Regions from separate parts of the Homo sapiens genome. Here region 1 is linked to region 2. The links come from fine-mapping of genetic effects on gene expression. A gene starts in region 2. The other region holds a variant in brackets. All regions are shown on one strand. Distances are between the middles of the regions.

Region 1 (8,332 bases), 29 kb before region 2:
ACCTCCGCCTACCACACCCGGCTACCAACTCCTATTTGACAGCTCCTGTTAGACATCCAACTGGCACCTCAAATTTAACATGCCCCCAGTAAAACTCCTGATCTTCCTCCCCAAAATTACTCCACCCACAATCTTCCCCAACTCAGTAAATAGCAACCAATCTTCCACACATTGTAGAAGTTCATTGTCTGTCTTCTCCACAAGAATGTAATATCCATGAGCGCAGGACTCACTGCTGAATCACCAGGGCAGTGATACAGCAACAGTAGAGGTCTTGAACTCCTGGCCTCAAGTGATCTGCCCACTTCAGCCTCCCAAAGTGCTGGGATTATAGGCATGAGCCACCACACGCAGCCCTCCAGCTCTTTTAAATAAGCATCCTCCATGAAGAATTTCTGCAAATCATCAAGCTGTTAATTGCTATATGCTGAATGTACACAAGCCCCTACCAGTCTGAGAGTCCTGTGTAAATCATTTTCTCTTTCAAATCCTGATGAAAAAGGGACTCAAAGAGAATCCAAACCACAGCCTGCAGGCTTCCTCATGCTTCTGCTTCACTACTGAGCCAGCCACTGGTCATGGTGTGTACTGCTGTCAACCACCAAAATACCAGACTCAGTCAGAACACTGCTGTCCACTGTTCTACGGAAAATCAGCAGCTACCTCCAAGGCTCCCACAGAGCCACATGGGGCCCCCAGTGACACAGTTCTTTCTTTCCTTCCCAGGAGACAGGGCTTTCAAGAGAGTAAGAGAGTACAGGTAAGGGTGCACCGTGGCACATCTCTCATGGCACCTGCCATCAAGGAACACTCTAATGTATAATCATCTAGTCTGGTCCTCTCAGCCAGATGTCATCTTCACTTACATTGATTTTCTCTCAGGGACCTGTTCATGTTTTTCTCTCCTCTAGCAAAGACATCTTTGAGGACCTCTAGCCCACGGGACAAGCCTATAAACGTCTGAACCCTAAATGAGAACACAGACCATTTGGCTTCTTTCCCACAAGGCTCCTGAACCTCATGCAAAACAACAGGACTGGATAGACGTCTGTGTTCAGGGTTTGTGAACATTCTGGGAAGGGCAGTAATTCCACAAAAACTGTGGGACACTAAGGGGGCAGTCTGCGCAAGGACACAGAGGCTTACACCACAAATTCTTCTTATTCTTTTTCGACGGAGTCTCACTCTTGTCGCCCAGGCTGGAGTGCAGTGGTGCAATCTTGGCTCACTGCAACCTCCACCTCCCGGGTTCAAGCAATATCTCAAGTGATACTCAAGCCTCCCGAGTAACTGGGATTACAGGCATGCGCCACCATACCTGGCTAATTTTTGTATTTTGGGGAGAGATGGGGTTTCACCCTGTTGGCCAGGCTGGTCTCGAACTCCTGACCTCAAGTGATCCACCCGCCTTGGCCTTCCAAAGTGCTGGGATTACAGGCGTGAGCCACCGTACCCGGCCTGGAACACCACAAATTCTTATTTCTGACCCAGCTAAAAATATCGTTACATGCTTGAATGGGCACTGAATTATTTAGGGAGGACTAAATGGCCAAATCAAAACTCACCAAGAATTCTGTGACTTAAAAAATACATAAGTTTGTCTCCTATGAAAGAGTTCCACAATATACTATTTAGGCAGGCATGCAACTCGGCTCCATAGAGTTATCAGGAATCCAGGCTGATGGTGGCTCTTCTGCCTTTGATAAGTAGCTTCCGAGGTCACTCCAGTCATCACCATTTCATCTGGTAAGAAAGTAGGCAAAGGTGTGAAGGAGTGGGCACGAGTTTCACAGGTCAGTCATGTAAGTGGCACACACACTTCCTCTTATATTCAGCTGGTCACATGGCCACACTGGCTGCAAAGGAGAATGGGAAATGTAGTCCATGGCAGAGCAGCCACACACCAGTCACAGCTCTGTTGCTGTAGAACAAGGGACAGCAAACTACAGCCCAAGGGCCAAATCTACCAGCTCTTGGTTTTGCAGAGTTGTTTTTTGTTTTTTGTTATTTTTTTCTGCCATATACAAACATATTTTTATATGAAATTATATAAAATACAGAAAGAGGCACAATGAATGTATGCAGTTAGAAAGCAGGATGGTGGTTACCCTTAGCGAGTAAGGAGGTGATCAGAAAGCAGCAGGAAGCTTCTCAGGTGCTTTTTTTCCTTAATTTGAATCCTGGCTCTACTACTTACTGGCTAGTGACTTGGTGAGCTATATGAAAACCTCTCTCTGCATCAGTTTCCTCATCTGTAAAATAGGGATTAAAAATAGTGCCAACCCCATCAGATTGTCAGAAAATTGCCTGGCATACAATGACTTCTAGATAATACACAATGAGCTCTATTAGTTAGTTTCTCTAGACAGTTATATTCTTAAAACCAGGGTGATTATCAAAAAGGACATTAGATTTATCCATCACATTGTGTATTTTTTAAAAAAGAACACGTTCATATATTAATTATAAATAAAAGTTAACCTTGTAATATGAACATTAAGCAAAAGACAAGCACTGCTCTTTAGTTGTATGTGCATCTGAGCCTAAGATTAGGTTTTATTATAAATATGTAAGTATAATTTTTTTTAATAGTAAGCAACTCAAGCCTAGCAAAAATACTACTTCTATTGCTACTCAGTGAAAAAGCATATTTATATATTTAAAAAGTACAAGGACACCTAGACAGAAAAGTAAACTTAGAATGAGGTTTCTGATAATGAAGGTTATTGTTCTTCCTCTCTATAGATAGACAGACAGAATATTCAAGCAGACAATGAACAGGGCACAGATGATAACAGAACCCTGACCCCCAGCTCGGCGGCAATCAGCATGGAGAGATCAGGACGTGGTCAAAACTTGCAGGCTTCCCCCATGTTGTTGTTGTTCTTACTTTCAACATGGAACCAGACAGAGAAAACCAAACATACTCCTCCAACCAATCACTTAGGATGTCCAGCTTCTAGTTGGAAAAAGAAATCCATGTTTTTCCTTAACTTCCTAAGTTCATAGTTGGAGCAGAGTCTGTTGCGGAGGCTGTAAGTCCAAGATCAGGGCTGAGCAGATTATGTTGTCTGGTGAGGACTTGGTCTCTGCTTTGAAGATGGCACTGATACGGCTCCGATGAGTGGAGGAGCACCAGGGCTCGTCTTGCGCGAATTGGATAAAACAACACAGACACAGTTGGAGTGGTTTTAAGGAGCAGAGTGTTTAAAAGGCAAGAAAGAAGAGAGAAGAAAGAAGGAAAAAGCTCTCCAGAGGGAGGAGGGCTCCAAAGACAAGAAAGGAGACCCAGGTTTTGCAAAGTTTTATTGGAGCTCAGCCACACCTATTCATTTACATATTGTCTGTGGCTGCTGTTTTCGGCTACAAAGGCAGAGTT[G/A]AGTAGTTGTGGCAGAGGCCTTATGGCCTGCAAAGTCTAACATTTACTGTTTGGCCATTTACAGAAAACATTTGCCAACTCCTGCTCTAGAAAAAGAAGAGAATGGGCCAGTTGCAGTGGCTGATGCCTGTAATCCCAGCACTTTGGGAGGCTGAGGTGGGGGGAATCACTTGAGGCCAGAGTTTGAGACCAGCCTGGCCAACATGGTGAACCTCTGTCTCTACTATAATAAAAACACACACACACACAAAATTAGCCAGGTGTGGTAGCGCACCTGTAATCCCAGCTACTCAGGAGGCTGAGGCACGAGAATCGCTTGAACCTGGGAGGCGGAGGTTGCAGTGAGCTGAGATCGTGCCATTGCACTCCAGTCTGGGTGACAGAGTGAGACTCTGTCTGGAAAAAAAGAAAGGAAAGGAAAGGAAAAAGGAAAAAGGAAAAGGAAAGAAAAGAGAATGGATTTGGTGGGACAACCAGCAGCCTATGGTTTCAAAATTCATCTTGGGGGTGGGTGAGGTGGCTCACGCCTGTAATCCCAGCACTTTGGGAGGCTGAGGCAGGCGGATCTCTTGAGGCCAGGAGTTCGAGACCAGCCTGGCCAACATGGTGAAACCCTGTCTCTATTAAAAATACAAAAATTAGCCAAGTGTGGTGGTGCACGCCTGTAATCCCAGCTAATGCGGAGGCTGAGGCAGGAGAATCACTTCAACCCGGGAGGCGGAGGCTACAATGAGCTGAGATCACAACACTGCACTCCAACCTGGGCAACAGAGTGCGACTCTGTCTCAAAAAACAAAAAACTTAAAAAATTTTTAAAAATTCACCTTGGAAATTTTTATGAAGACACATAAACAAAAACATTTATTGTAGCATTTTTTTTGGCACACCAAGAAGCAAAAAACAACTTATAAAGGACTGTTAAATTATGGACCATATGTATCGCAGAATACAATGTAGCCTTTAAAAATAATGTAGATATTTTCTCATTCTTGTTGATTTTCCAATCAATATGTACTGACTAGAAAACATCCAAATATATTAACTTTAAAAAGTAAAATGTATTTTTCTTTGTTTAGTGAAGGGAAAAAAGTAAAATACAGAACAATATGTTTAGGATGCTACCATTTGTCGGGGGGGTGGGGAAACAAAATTTAATATATAATACATACCTATATGTTTACATAGAAAATTCCTGGAAAGAAGGATACAAAATAACCTGAAAAAGAGGTTATTTCTGGGTGGGAACATCAGAAAATTGGAGGACAAAGCAGGAGGGAAGTTTACTTTTCACCAAATACTCTTTTATACATTTTGAATTGGTACAATGTACATGGTACCATCTATTTTTTAATTAATTAAAAATTAAACCAAGAAAAACACACAAAAAGGTTTGCATTTACTACCATTGCTAACCAACTCCTCTTCTGAAAGACATAATTTCCTTAAAAGCTCCAATAATATCTTCAATCAGGGATAGCCAGTTCTACTGAGCTGGGAACCATTTTATATTTTCATATTTGCTTCCCAACTCCTTGGTGTGTCAGGTTCTCAGAGATACTCTGTTTCTGTTGCTTTCATAGTCAGTTTACAAATTCTGCTTTAGGCTGGGCACCGTGGCTCACGCCTGTAATCCCAGCACTTTGGGAGGTCGAGGCAAGTGGATCACGAGGGCAGAAGATAGAGACCATCCTGGCTAACACGGTGAAACCCCGTCTCCACTAAAAATATAAAAAGAAATTAGCTGGGCGTAGTGGTGGGCACCTGTGGTCCCAGCTACTCAGGAGGCTGAGGCAGGAGAATGGCGTGAACCCGGGAGGCAGAGCTTGCAGTGAGCCAAGATCATGCCACTGCACTCCAGCCTGGGCGATAGAGCGAGACTCCCTCTCAAAAAGAAAATTTTTTGCTTTAGTCAGCCAGGCACTATGGTTCATACCTGTAATCCCAGCATTTTGGGAGGCCAAAGTGGGTGGATTACTTGAGGTCAGGAGTTCGAGACTAGCCTGGCCAACATGGTAAAATCCCATCTCTACTAAAAATACAAAAATTAGCCAGGTGTAGCGGCGCATGCCTGTAATCCCAGAAACTCAGGAAGCGGAGGCAGGAGAGTCACTTAAATCTGGGAGGTGGAAGTTGCAGTGAGCCAAGATTGTGCCACTGCACTCTAGCCTGGGAAACAGAGCAAGACGGCATCTCAAACAAAAAGAAGCAAACAAACAAAATTCTACTTTAGTCCCCTGCTTTTCTTGAAATATCTTCTTTCCATACAGAAAATCTTCTCACACATGTTGAATATTAAGAGAAAGAAATCTGACCTCAAAAGAAAAATTGTCTTAGTTTGGGTTCAAAAAAAAAAAAGAAAAAGTTTAAATAGAAAAATTAAGCACAGAGAGACATAAATAACAGTTCCTAAGCCCGATAAACAACTCTGAAGAAAAATCTTGTAAGAAAACCTATCTTTCAGTTAAAAATGACAGAAATCCAGCTCGCACAAGCTGAAGAGAAAAAGGAATCCACTGGCTCATAGAACCAGGAACCGCAGGCCAGGCGCAGTGGCTCACACCTGTAATCTCAGCACTTTCAGAGGCCGAGGTGGGCAGACTGCTTGAGTCCCGGAGTTCAAGACCAGCCTGAGCAATGTGGCAAAACCCCATCTCTACTAAAAATATAAAAATTAGCTGGGCACTGTGGCACGCCTGTAGTCCCAGCTACTCAGAAGGCTGAGGTGGGAGGATCGCTTGAGCCTGGGAGGTGGAGGTTGCAGTAAGCAGAGATCACACCAGTGCTCTCCAGCCTCGGTGACAGAGCAAGAGAGTCTCAAAAACAAAAAAGGTGGGCTTGGCTTCAAGCACAGATCAATCTGATACAGAGCAGGCAAGCCCCAAAGTAGGGCTGAGCCCATGAGACTTCTTGGCTTTGCCCAGGAAAGAATTCAAGGGCAAGCTGAAGGTAAAAGAAAACAGCTTTATTGAAGCGGTAGTGTTACAACCCTGTGACTGCTCCTGCAGAGCAGGTTTACCCTGTAGGCAGACAGGAGCAGCTCCGGGCAGTCTGGCAGCCACATTTATACCTACTTTTAATAACATGCAAATTTGGCCGGGTGCGGTGGCTCATGCCTGTAATCCCAGCACATTGGGAGGCGGAGCCAGGCAGATCACCTGAGGTCAGGAGTTTGATACCAGCCTAGTTAGCATGGCAAAACCCCGTCTCTATTAAAAATACAAAAATTAGCTGGGCATGGTGGTACACACCTGTAATCCCAGCTACTCGGGAGGCTGAGGCATGAGAATCGTTTGAACCTGGGAGGCAGAGGTTGCAGTGAGCCGAGATCATGCCACTGCACTCCAGCCTGGGCGACAGAGTGAGACTTTGTCTCAAAATAAATAAGTAAATAAAAATAACATGCAGATTAAAGGGCAGTTTATGCAGAAATTTCTAGGGAAGGGGGCCGGGCGCGGTGGCTCATGCCTGTAATCCCAGTACTTCGGGAGGCGAAAGTGGGCAGATCACCTGAGGTCAGGAGTTCAAGACCAGCCTGGCCAACGTGGTGAAACCACGTCTCTACTAAAATACAAAAATTCGCTGGGCATGGTGGCGCACACCTGTAATCCCAGCTACTCAGGAGGCTGAGGCACGAGAATCACTTGAACCTGGGAAGTGGAGGTTACAGTGAGCCGAGATCGTGCCGCTGCACTCCAGCCTGGGTGACAGAGCAAGACTCTGTCTCTAAATGAATAAATAAATGGTTACATTTGTACCCTCCATAAGGTGGAGGATTACCATTAAATGTCAGTTTCTTTTCTTTTTTTTTTTTTTTCTGAGATGGAGTCTTGCTCTGTCACCCAGGCTGGAGTGCAGCAGCATGATCTCAGCTCACTGCAACTTCCACCTCCCAGGTTCAAGCAATTCTGCCTCAGCCTCCCAAGTAGCTGGCATTACAGGCGCCCGCCACCACACCCAGCTAATTTTTATATTTTTAGTAGAGACAAGGTTTCACCACGTTGGCCAAGCTGGTCTCAAACTCCTGACCTCATGATCCGCCCACCTAGGACTCCCAAAGTGCTGAGATTACACGCATGAGCCACCATGCCCAGCTGATAGTTTCTTAATAAGTAGAAAGCTCATCTAAGAACAAAAGGTCAGACATCCTTGCTATAAGAAGTTGTTCATTTTTAAAGTAGAATCATGAAAACATGAGAGCTGGTACTATATGCCAATGTAATGCCAAATATCTTTCATTTGGAATGATATGATTAAAGCCAAATAACCAAGATGTCTTCCAGAAGGCACATGTAATAAATATTTTTTAAAGCCCTGGTTCTCATCTACAATTGAGGCATATTTAGGTATTTCAGATCATCAAGGGTGACACAAAAATCTTCAAAACAAAACTAACGTTAAATCGATTTTATTTAAAGCCATAAATAAATAAGCCAATTAACGCTCAAGTCTGAGAGGGCTGCAGTCTTTTTAACAATACCATAGTCCAAAAAGACTAATACTTATTGCTGATTCAGCTCACAATATTACCCCTTTCCAGACAACAGCACATTCAAATGTTCAAGAAAACATTTTATGGGCACCTTTTATGGGCATTTGAGATTCACAGAGCAATGGGCCATGGCCCTGCCCTCAAGGAACTTACAATGTAGCTGGAGAGACACAAAACATCCAAAACAGACATGAGGGGCTGGCTCTACCTCCACACCTCTATCTGAACAAAAACGATTACTGGCTTAAGTCCTCGTGTTGTAACGCATGAGCCACAGGAATATCTTAGCAAGTACGCACTTTATCAAGTTTCAATTTGACATGTCAAAACAAAAGTTTTTATGTTGTTCATTTATATTTGTATTCACTCAGATTTCCACTCAATCAAATTAAAAGAGAAAGACATAATTCCAAGCCAACTGTACCATAATGTTTGCTGTCCTCGATGAAAGGATAGCTTGTTCA
Region 2 (8,332 bases):
CACCACTGCACTCCAGCCTGGTGACAGAGTAAGAATCCGTCTTAAATAAATAAATAAATAAATAAAAATAAACAAATAAAAATAATTTAAGAAGTCAAAAAAGTGGTGATGCCCACCTGTACTCCCAGCTACTTAGGAAGCTGAGGTGAGAGGATCACTTAAGCCCAGGAAGTTGAGGTTGCAGTGAGTCATGATCATGCCACTGCACTGTAAGCCTAGGTGACAGAGTGAGACCCTGTCTCAAAAAAAAAAAAAAAAAAAGGCAAAAAATAACAGACGCTGGCAAGTTGGTGGAGAAAAGGGGATGCTTATACACTCCTGGTGGGAATGTAAATTAGTTAAGCCACTGTGGAAAGCAGTTTGGAGATTTTTCAAAGAACTTGAAACAGAACTATGATGCGACCTAGCAATCCCATTACTGTGTATATACCCAAAGGAATATAAATCCTACTATTAAGACACATGCACATATATGTTCATCACAGCACTATTCATGATAGCAAAGATGTAGAATCAACCTAGGCACCTATCAATGGTGAACTGGATCAAGAAAATGTGGTATATATCATCCACCATGGAATACTACACAGCAATGACAAAGAACAAAAATCATGTCATTTGCAGCAACATGGATGGAGCTGGAGGCCAATATCCCAAGTGAATTAACACAGGGACAGAAAAGCAAACACTGAATATTCTTGCGTATAAGTGGGAGCTAAACCTTGAGTACACATGGACACAAAAAAGGAAACAGTAGACATGGGGCCTACTTGAGGGTAGAGGGTGACAGGAGGGTGAGGATCAAAACTATCTATCTGGTAGTATGCTCACTATCTGGGTGACAAAATAATTTGTACACCAAACCCCCAACACATACACTTTACCCATGTAACAAACCTGCACATGTAACCCCAAATCTAAAATAAAAGTTGGAAGGGAAAAAAACTCAAACAAAATATGTGATTGGATAATATCTGAAATGTTCTTTAAACTCTAAACAAAAGCATAAGGGACTCAAAAAAGGGAGAGAGGGAGGGAGGGAAGAAAGGAATGAAGGAAGGAGGGAGGGAGGGAGGGAAGAAAGGAAGGAAGGAAGGGAGGGAGGGAGGGAGGGAGGGCTGTGGATTTGCCCCAAGCTGTCAGCTGATCATCTTGGCAGCAGAAAGGTTGGGACACTCCAGGGGTTCCCAGTGATGAGCTGAGGTCAGAGATGCATGCAGATGGGGAGGACCCCTGGCACAAAGCAGGCACTCCACAATTGTTTGAAAAACACAAAACAATTAAGTCAGAATCAGAAATGCTCTGCTGACGACACAGTCCCAAACAAATACTGGCTGCCACTATTATCATTAAGCAGGGTCTTGAAGCGTAAGTAACATCTGGAAGCTAACATGACGGAAGCTAACAGAAGTAGACAGGAGGCATTCATTTCAACTTAAAAAACCTGCAGGATGGCCGGGCACGGTGACTCACACCTGTAATCCCAGAATTTTGGGAGGCTGAGGCAGGTGGATCACCTGAGGTCAGGAGTTCAAGACCAGCCCAGCCAATGTGGTGAAACCCCGTCTCTACTAAAAATACGAAAATTAGCTGGGCATGGTGGTGGGTGCCTGTAGTCCCAGCTACTCAGGAGGCTGAGGCAGAAGAATGGCTTGAGCCTGGGAGGTGGAGGCTGCAGTGAGCCAAGATGGCATCATTGCACTCCAGCCTGGGCAACAGACTGAGACTCTGTCTCAAAAAAAAAAAAAAAAAAAAAAAAAAAAAAAAAAACCCCCAAAGCTGCAGGAGCCAAAGTAGTGTGGTGTCCCCACCTGATGTGTTCAGACAGGGTAGAGCACTGGTTCTCAGCAAGAGGCGATTTTGCCCCCCAACCCCTACAGGACACTTAGCAATGTCTGGAGACATTTTTGGTTGTCATAACTAGGGCTAGGGTGCTAACAGTATCTAGTGGGTAGAAGCCAGGGATGCTGCTACACGTCCTGCAATACACAGGACAGCCTCCATAGCAAGGAATTATCATGCTCAAAATGTCACTCAAGCCAAGATGGAGAAACTCTGTGGTAGAGTGGTCATCTCTTACCATTCTTCTACAAGACTGCTCTAACTCCAATACTCCAGTTGTACCAGCCTCCTCACTGTTCCTATCACACTCACAGCACCATTCCTTCTCAGAGCCTTTGTACCTGCTGTTCTCCCTGCTTAAACAACCATCCTCCAATAGTTGCAAAGCTCCCACCCTCTTTTTTCAGATCTCTTTTCAAATATCACCTTATCAACAATGTCTTCTCAAAATATCCTAATAGAAGATAAGTCACCATCCTTTATCTTATTTTTCTCATAGTATTTAACATCACCCAAACATGGTTTACTTGTTTTTTTGGCTTTTTATTTTTTTTTTTTTTTTGAGATGGAGTCTTGCTCTGTTGCCCAGGCAGGAAGGGGCAGTGGCATCAGCTCACTGGAACCTCCACCTCCCAGGTTCAAGCGATTTTCCTGCCTCAGCTTCCCGAGTAGCTGGGATTACAGGTGCACGCCACCACACCTGGCTAATTTTTGTATTTTTAGTAGAGGCAGGGTTTCTGCATGTCGGCCAGGCTGGTCTCAGACTCCTGGCCTCAAGAGATCCGCCCACCTCGGCCTCCCAAAGTGCTGGAATTACAGGCGTGAGCCATCGCACCGGGCCTTATCTGCTTTTCTCTCAAAATGAAAGAACCAAGGGATCCATGAGGGAATTTGTCGATTTTGTTCACTGCTATATCCCCAGTGCCCAGAAGTATGCCACATACTCCAAGTGCCTAATAAACATTTATTGAATGAATGAATAAAACAATGACTGGACATTAGGGAGGAGAACTAACGGGATTTAGAAGAGAGGCAGGACAGAAAAATAGTGCAGTAGTTAAGATGCATGAACTTCAGAATCACGAAGAGGTTCCAGTTTCAGCACCACCACTTGCTAGATGTGTGATTTGGGGGCACAGAACAGCCTCTCTGTGGCTCAGTCTTTTTATTAGTAAAATGAGGATAACGATAATAAAAGAAGGTACCTCCTGGACATCGATGGAAGCACCTGCCACTGAGCCTGACATGCAATCAGGGCCGAACAAATGTTAAGCTCTTGGTGGCATTGGTTTAGTGACCAGCAGAAGGGGGAGGAGTAGGTTTAGATAGCACTGAGGTTTCCTGTACAAGGACTAGAAGCTGGGGAAGAAGCCATTACTCAGGAAAGAGTAGGTATGAGGACTAAGGCAAGGGCGGTACTTCAGCTGCAGAGGTGGCCTAGGACAGGGGTGCACTGCGTGGATTCCGGGGCCAGACCCTGACTGTAAATCCCCACTCCTTCATTCACAAGCTACGTGGCCCTGCGCAAATTACTTGCAGCCCTCTGTGCTTCAGTGCTCTCATCTTTCAACTGGGGATAACAATACCTACCTCTTACGGTTATTGTGATGCTCAGTGATTTAGTTTACCTAAACCACCCAGAACAACGCGTGGCATATAGCAAGTGCTGTATGAAAAACTCTCCGTGCCTTCATTCTCTTACAAAATTAAAATGACCTTCACCTCAGTCTGAAACCCCACAGGCTTCAGCAGAGTAACCCCCAAAGATTTTCAGAGCTCCACCCTTCCTGGCCCCGAAGCAGAGATCTGCTGAGCAAATCCAACCGACAAGCGCCAGGCACAGGTAATGCACTATCGACCCTATGATTCCGGACGAATTCCCAACCCCATCCAATAGCCCACGCTCTACTCAAGAGACGAGAGCTGCCATTCCCGCTCCCTCCTCCCGCAAAACTGTAGAACCCGCCGGTAGAGGCCGGGAGCGCCCCCGAGGAGGGGCCGGGAAGAGGCGGGGCCCGGTTGCGACTCGCCGCCCGGGAGCCTGGGAGACCCAGAGGCTGCGCCCGCGCCCCCTCACCAGTAGCAGCTGCTGTAGACGCAGGCGTCCCGCGGGGGGCTGGCCGGCTGGTAGTGGACAGCAGCGGGGCCATTACCTTCCATGGCCGGCTAGCTGGGCCAGGGCCCGGGCCGGAGGAAGACCGACTGGACCAGACGTAGGAAAGGGCGGGCTTGTAGTGGCCCGCGTGGGTTCCCGGCGTGGGGTGGGCGGAGCCCGGGGGGAGAGGGCCGGGGCAGTTTCCGGGTGGTGGGGCCAGTAGCGCGGTGGGCGGGGCCAGGGCGGGACTAGCAGCACGAGTTCCCGGCGCGGGAAGCCCGGGACGAAGTAGGCGGAGCTCGGGGCAAGCGGCGCCAGTTCCTGGGAGGGTGGAGCCCAAGCGAAGTGGGCGGGTCCGGGGTGGGGTGAGTGGCGCGAACTCCCGGTGGGCGGAGCCCGGGACGAGGAGGACAGCGCGCTTCCGGGTAGGCGGAGCCCGGCTGGTGGGTGGGGCCCGGGATGGGGCGGGACTGGAGGACCGGGCTCTGGTGGGCGGAGTCAGGGGCGGGGCCCCGGTGAGCTTTGGGAGAAGAGGGGTCTCTGGCGGCGGCTTGGGGAGGAGCTAGGTTTGGGCTTGGAGTTGGGCCCTGAATGGCGCTTTGCTGTGAATCTCCGCGGGGAGGCTCTTCCAACCAGGGGCTGAGCTTCTGCGCTGTGGAGAAGCCAGGTGAGACACTGAAATAACAGAGGTTTGGGTGTGAAAATCCACGCTTCTGCACTCAGCCTGGAGTCTGCGGGAGCCCAGAGAAGAGGGGAGTGGAGGTTAATTCCAATATGACCGCATCGAGGACGCTTTCCGAAAGGGATAGCACCCCAAATCTCACTCTATTGTAACTTAATCTTTTAAATTGGAAGGCCTGTAGCTATTGGCTCGAAAAGATATATTAATTCCCTGATACAGTAAATTTGAAAAAAAAAAGTTTAAAGAGTCCATATGGTATCCTTTTTGTGTTAATCATATATTTTGTTCAATTACTGGCAGTCTGGAAGAAAAGACACCATATTGTTAAAATAGTGTTTAGGGCCGGGTGCGGTGGCTCACGCCTGTAATCCCAGCACTTTGGGAGACCGAGGCGGGTGGATCACGAGGTCAGGGGTTCGAGACGAGCCTGGCCAACATGGTGAAACTCCGTCTCTACTAAAAATACAAAAATTAGTTGGGCGTGGAGGCGCGCGCCTGTAATCCCAGATACTCGGGAGGCTGAGGCAAGAGAATCGCCTGAACCCGGGAGGCGGAGGTTGCAGTGAGCCGAGATGGTGCCATTGCACTCCAGCCTGGGCAACAGGGTGAGACTCCGTCTCAAAAAAAAAAAATAGTGTTTATCTCTGGTGAATGAATGATATTAATATCAGGGACTTTCAGTTTCAAGGTCTTTACACTTTACAGTCTTCTGAATTGTTTATATTTGCAATGAGCATAGCTAGCTAATCAGGGTACTTCCCATTATAAAAACTGAGATGTTTACATTGATTTTAGCCATCCACAGTTGGATTCTCCAATCTCTTCAGTCTCAAAGCTGATAAATCCTAAAGACTTGGAGCACAGTTCCTGTGTCAATTACCAATTTTATTGCCTCTCAGCTCCTAATACAAACTTCCACATAGCCTCTATGCTATATAACAACTCTGGTAAACATTTCTCCTTTAAAGTGAGTGGGAAACCCTATAAGCTAGAAGGGATTGGGGCCCTATCTTTAGCCTCCTCAAACAAAACAATTATCAGCCAATAATTTTGTATCCAGCGAAACTAAGCATCATATATTAAGGAAAGATACAGTCTTTTTCAGACAAATGGTGAGAGAATTTGCCACTACCAAGCCACCACTACAGGAACTGCTAAAAGGAGTTCTAAATCTTGAAACAAATCCTGGAAACACATCAAAACAGAACCTCGTTAAAGCATAAATCACACAGGACCTATACAACAAAAATACAATTTAAAAAACAACAAAAAAAAACAAGGTACACAGGCAACAAAGCACGATGAATGGAATGGTACCTCACAAGTCAATCCTAACATTGAATGTAAATGGTCTAAATGCTCCATTTAAAGTGAGTGGGACAGGTGTAGTGGTGAGAACATCCTTGTGGAGTCTGCCCCAGCCCCAGACTCAGAACATGGTCCCTTCCTAACCTTGCAGGTTTAGCCTGGCAATAACCTTTCTTCAGCCTCTTGACACAAAAACCAGGGTCCTCCCTAACCCTACCTTCTATACGGTAAGGTACTGAATAGAGTTTCCTTATGTGTTATCGTTATGCCTTTATCATAGTTAATAATAATTTTTTGGTGGGGGACAGGGTCTCCCTCTGTCACCCAGGCTGGAGTGCAGTGGTGCAATCATAGCTCACTACAGCCTCAAACTCCTGGGCTCAAGTGATCCTCCAGCCTCAGCCTCCTGAGTAGCTGAGACTGCAGGCACGCACCACCGTGCGCAGCTAACATAATTAATAGTTCTTTACATTTAACTTCCCTTGCTTGACCTACTGTGTAGTTTCTTATCCTGATTGGGCACAAACTACTTACTATAGGACTTTGAAGCTAGGCTGGGTAGGTTCTACAACTTGCCAGTTGGGTCACCTTGGGCAAAGTTACTTCACTCTTCTGTGTCTCACTTTCCTCATCTGTAAAATGAAGTTAAAGATAATGCTACTACCTCATAGGGTCATTATGAGGATTAGTTGAGTTTATGTATATAAAGTACTTAGAATAGTTGGTAGCATATAATATAAATGTTAGCAACTATGATTTTTTGTTAAAAAAATCTGATTTCATTATTTCCCGCATACCCTATACTTTTTTTTTTTTTTTTTTTTTTTTTTTTGAGATAAGAGTCTCACTCTGTCGCCCAGGCTGGAGTGCTGTGGTGCAATCTTGACTCACTGCAACCTCCGCCCCCACCACCCCAGCTAAATTGTGTATTTTCTTGTGGAGGTGAGGTTTCACCATGTTGGCCAGGCTGGTCTCAAATTCCTGACCTCAAGTGATCTGCCCGCCTCGGCCACCCTCCCCGCCGCCATACTCTTGTCACTGAGTGTCTTATTCTTCCTTTGATACCCCAAGCCTTTGCACAAGATGTATGTACACTCTGTCTGATGCATTCTTTCACATGCCTTATTTGCAGCTTTTCCCAGGAAGAGTTTATTGTTGGCTTCCATCTTCCTGGAGCTTTTTTTCCTGTTTTGTCACAACTTTTATTCATATGTCTTGAAAAGCAGTAGCATGCTCAGCAACTCAATCTGTCTCTACCTCTGCCATGAGCTCTTCCAGGGCATGGGTCTTGCCCTGAGAGGTAGAATAGTATAAATAGTGCTGTAGTCAGAAACACACTCAAATCTTATCTTGGCTACTTACTACCCTGAGTGACCTTGGATAAGTAACACTAGGATTTCTGAGCGTCAGTTTCTTTGCAAAATGAGGATAATAATAGTAGAGTGCTTATCTAATGGGTGCTGCAGTGAAAATTAAATAAACTAATCTCTGCAAAACACTTAGCATAGTGCCTGGCAGAACATAGGTACTGTCAAAAATAAACATAGCCGTTGACCATCAGTCAAAGCGATGAAAACAGATTTTATTCAGCAACTATTGACAGTAGGGGAAAGAGCTGAGCTCCATTCCAATTGTGCAGAGGTAATTTGGGCATTTGGAAAGAAGAATGAGGAAGCAGGGAGGAGTTGGGGGGGGGGGGGCGCTCATTAGAGCCAGGGAAGTGAAAATTACAAAGGGTTGGTCAGTGTAAATACCATTAGGCCAGTCGTGTCTGCTAGCTGGCAGTTATCTAAGTTAGGATTCTATCCTCCCACAGAGACTGGGAGTCAGAGGCCCTATCCTTCCTGATGATTACATTTCAAAGGAATGGCTCTCTAAGTCCTTGAGAAGGACTTCTGAGTTGTAAGTAATACATATTTACAATTCTAAGCCCTTTTAGTAAATGCTCTAAGAAAAGGAGGTCAGGGGCCTATCATCAGGTACTGGCAACAACAAATAGTAAATTTTCCTGGGAGCTTTGAGCTTTCTTAAGCAGGCATTTTAATGGGGGGTTTGGGGGAGAAGGCTGACATAGCCTTATACTGCTAGAAGCCATGCTAGAGTTTGGTCAAGTCTGTTAGTGCAGGGATTTGGAACCAAGTTGTGCTGAGAGTTCTGCAGTACTCAGTACCCTACGTAATAAACAACTACATAGGCCAGGTGTAGTGGCTCACCCCTGTAATCCTAGAACTTTGGGAGACCAAGGCGGGAGGATCGCTTGAGGTCAGTTTGAGACCAACCTAAGCAACACAGCAAGACCCTGTCTCTACAAAAAAAAAATTTTTTTTAATTAGCCAGGCATGGTGGTATCTGTAGTCCTAGGCACCCAGGAGGCTGAAGCAAAAGAATTGCTTGAGCCCAGGAGT

Evidence for each region. PIP is the estimated chance that this variant, and not a neighbour inherited with it, causes the effect.
Region 1: its variant is fine-mapped to the expression of NTAQ1 in whole blood (INTERVAL, PIP above 0.99).

Annotation. Positions count from the first base shown.
Region 1 is chr8:123,441,458-123,449,789 of GRCh38, reverse strand. NTAQ1 (N-terminal glutamine amidase 1) reads right to left here. Exons shown (of 6, transcript NM_018024.3): 6 at 7,550-8,332. Among named protein-coding and RNA genes, the nearest start is that of NTAQ1, 29 kb to the right of the region's middle. The variant G/A (reference allele first, on the strand shown) is at 3,380.
Region 2 is chr8:123,412,520-123,420,851 of GRCh38, reverse strand. NTAQ1 (N-terminal glutamine amidase 1) reads right to left here and starts at 4,078. Exons shown (of 6, transcript NM_018024.3): 1 at 3,920-4,078. The coding sequence starts at 4,002. It also overlaps a transcript of ATAD2 not described here. RefSeq lists silencers at 3,340-3,389, 3,710-3,909, 4,020-4,499, 6,417-6,617 and an enhancer at 3,312-3,906.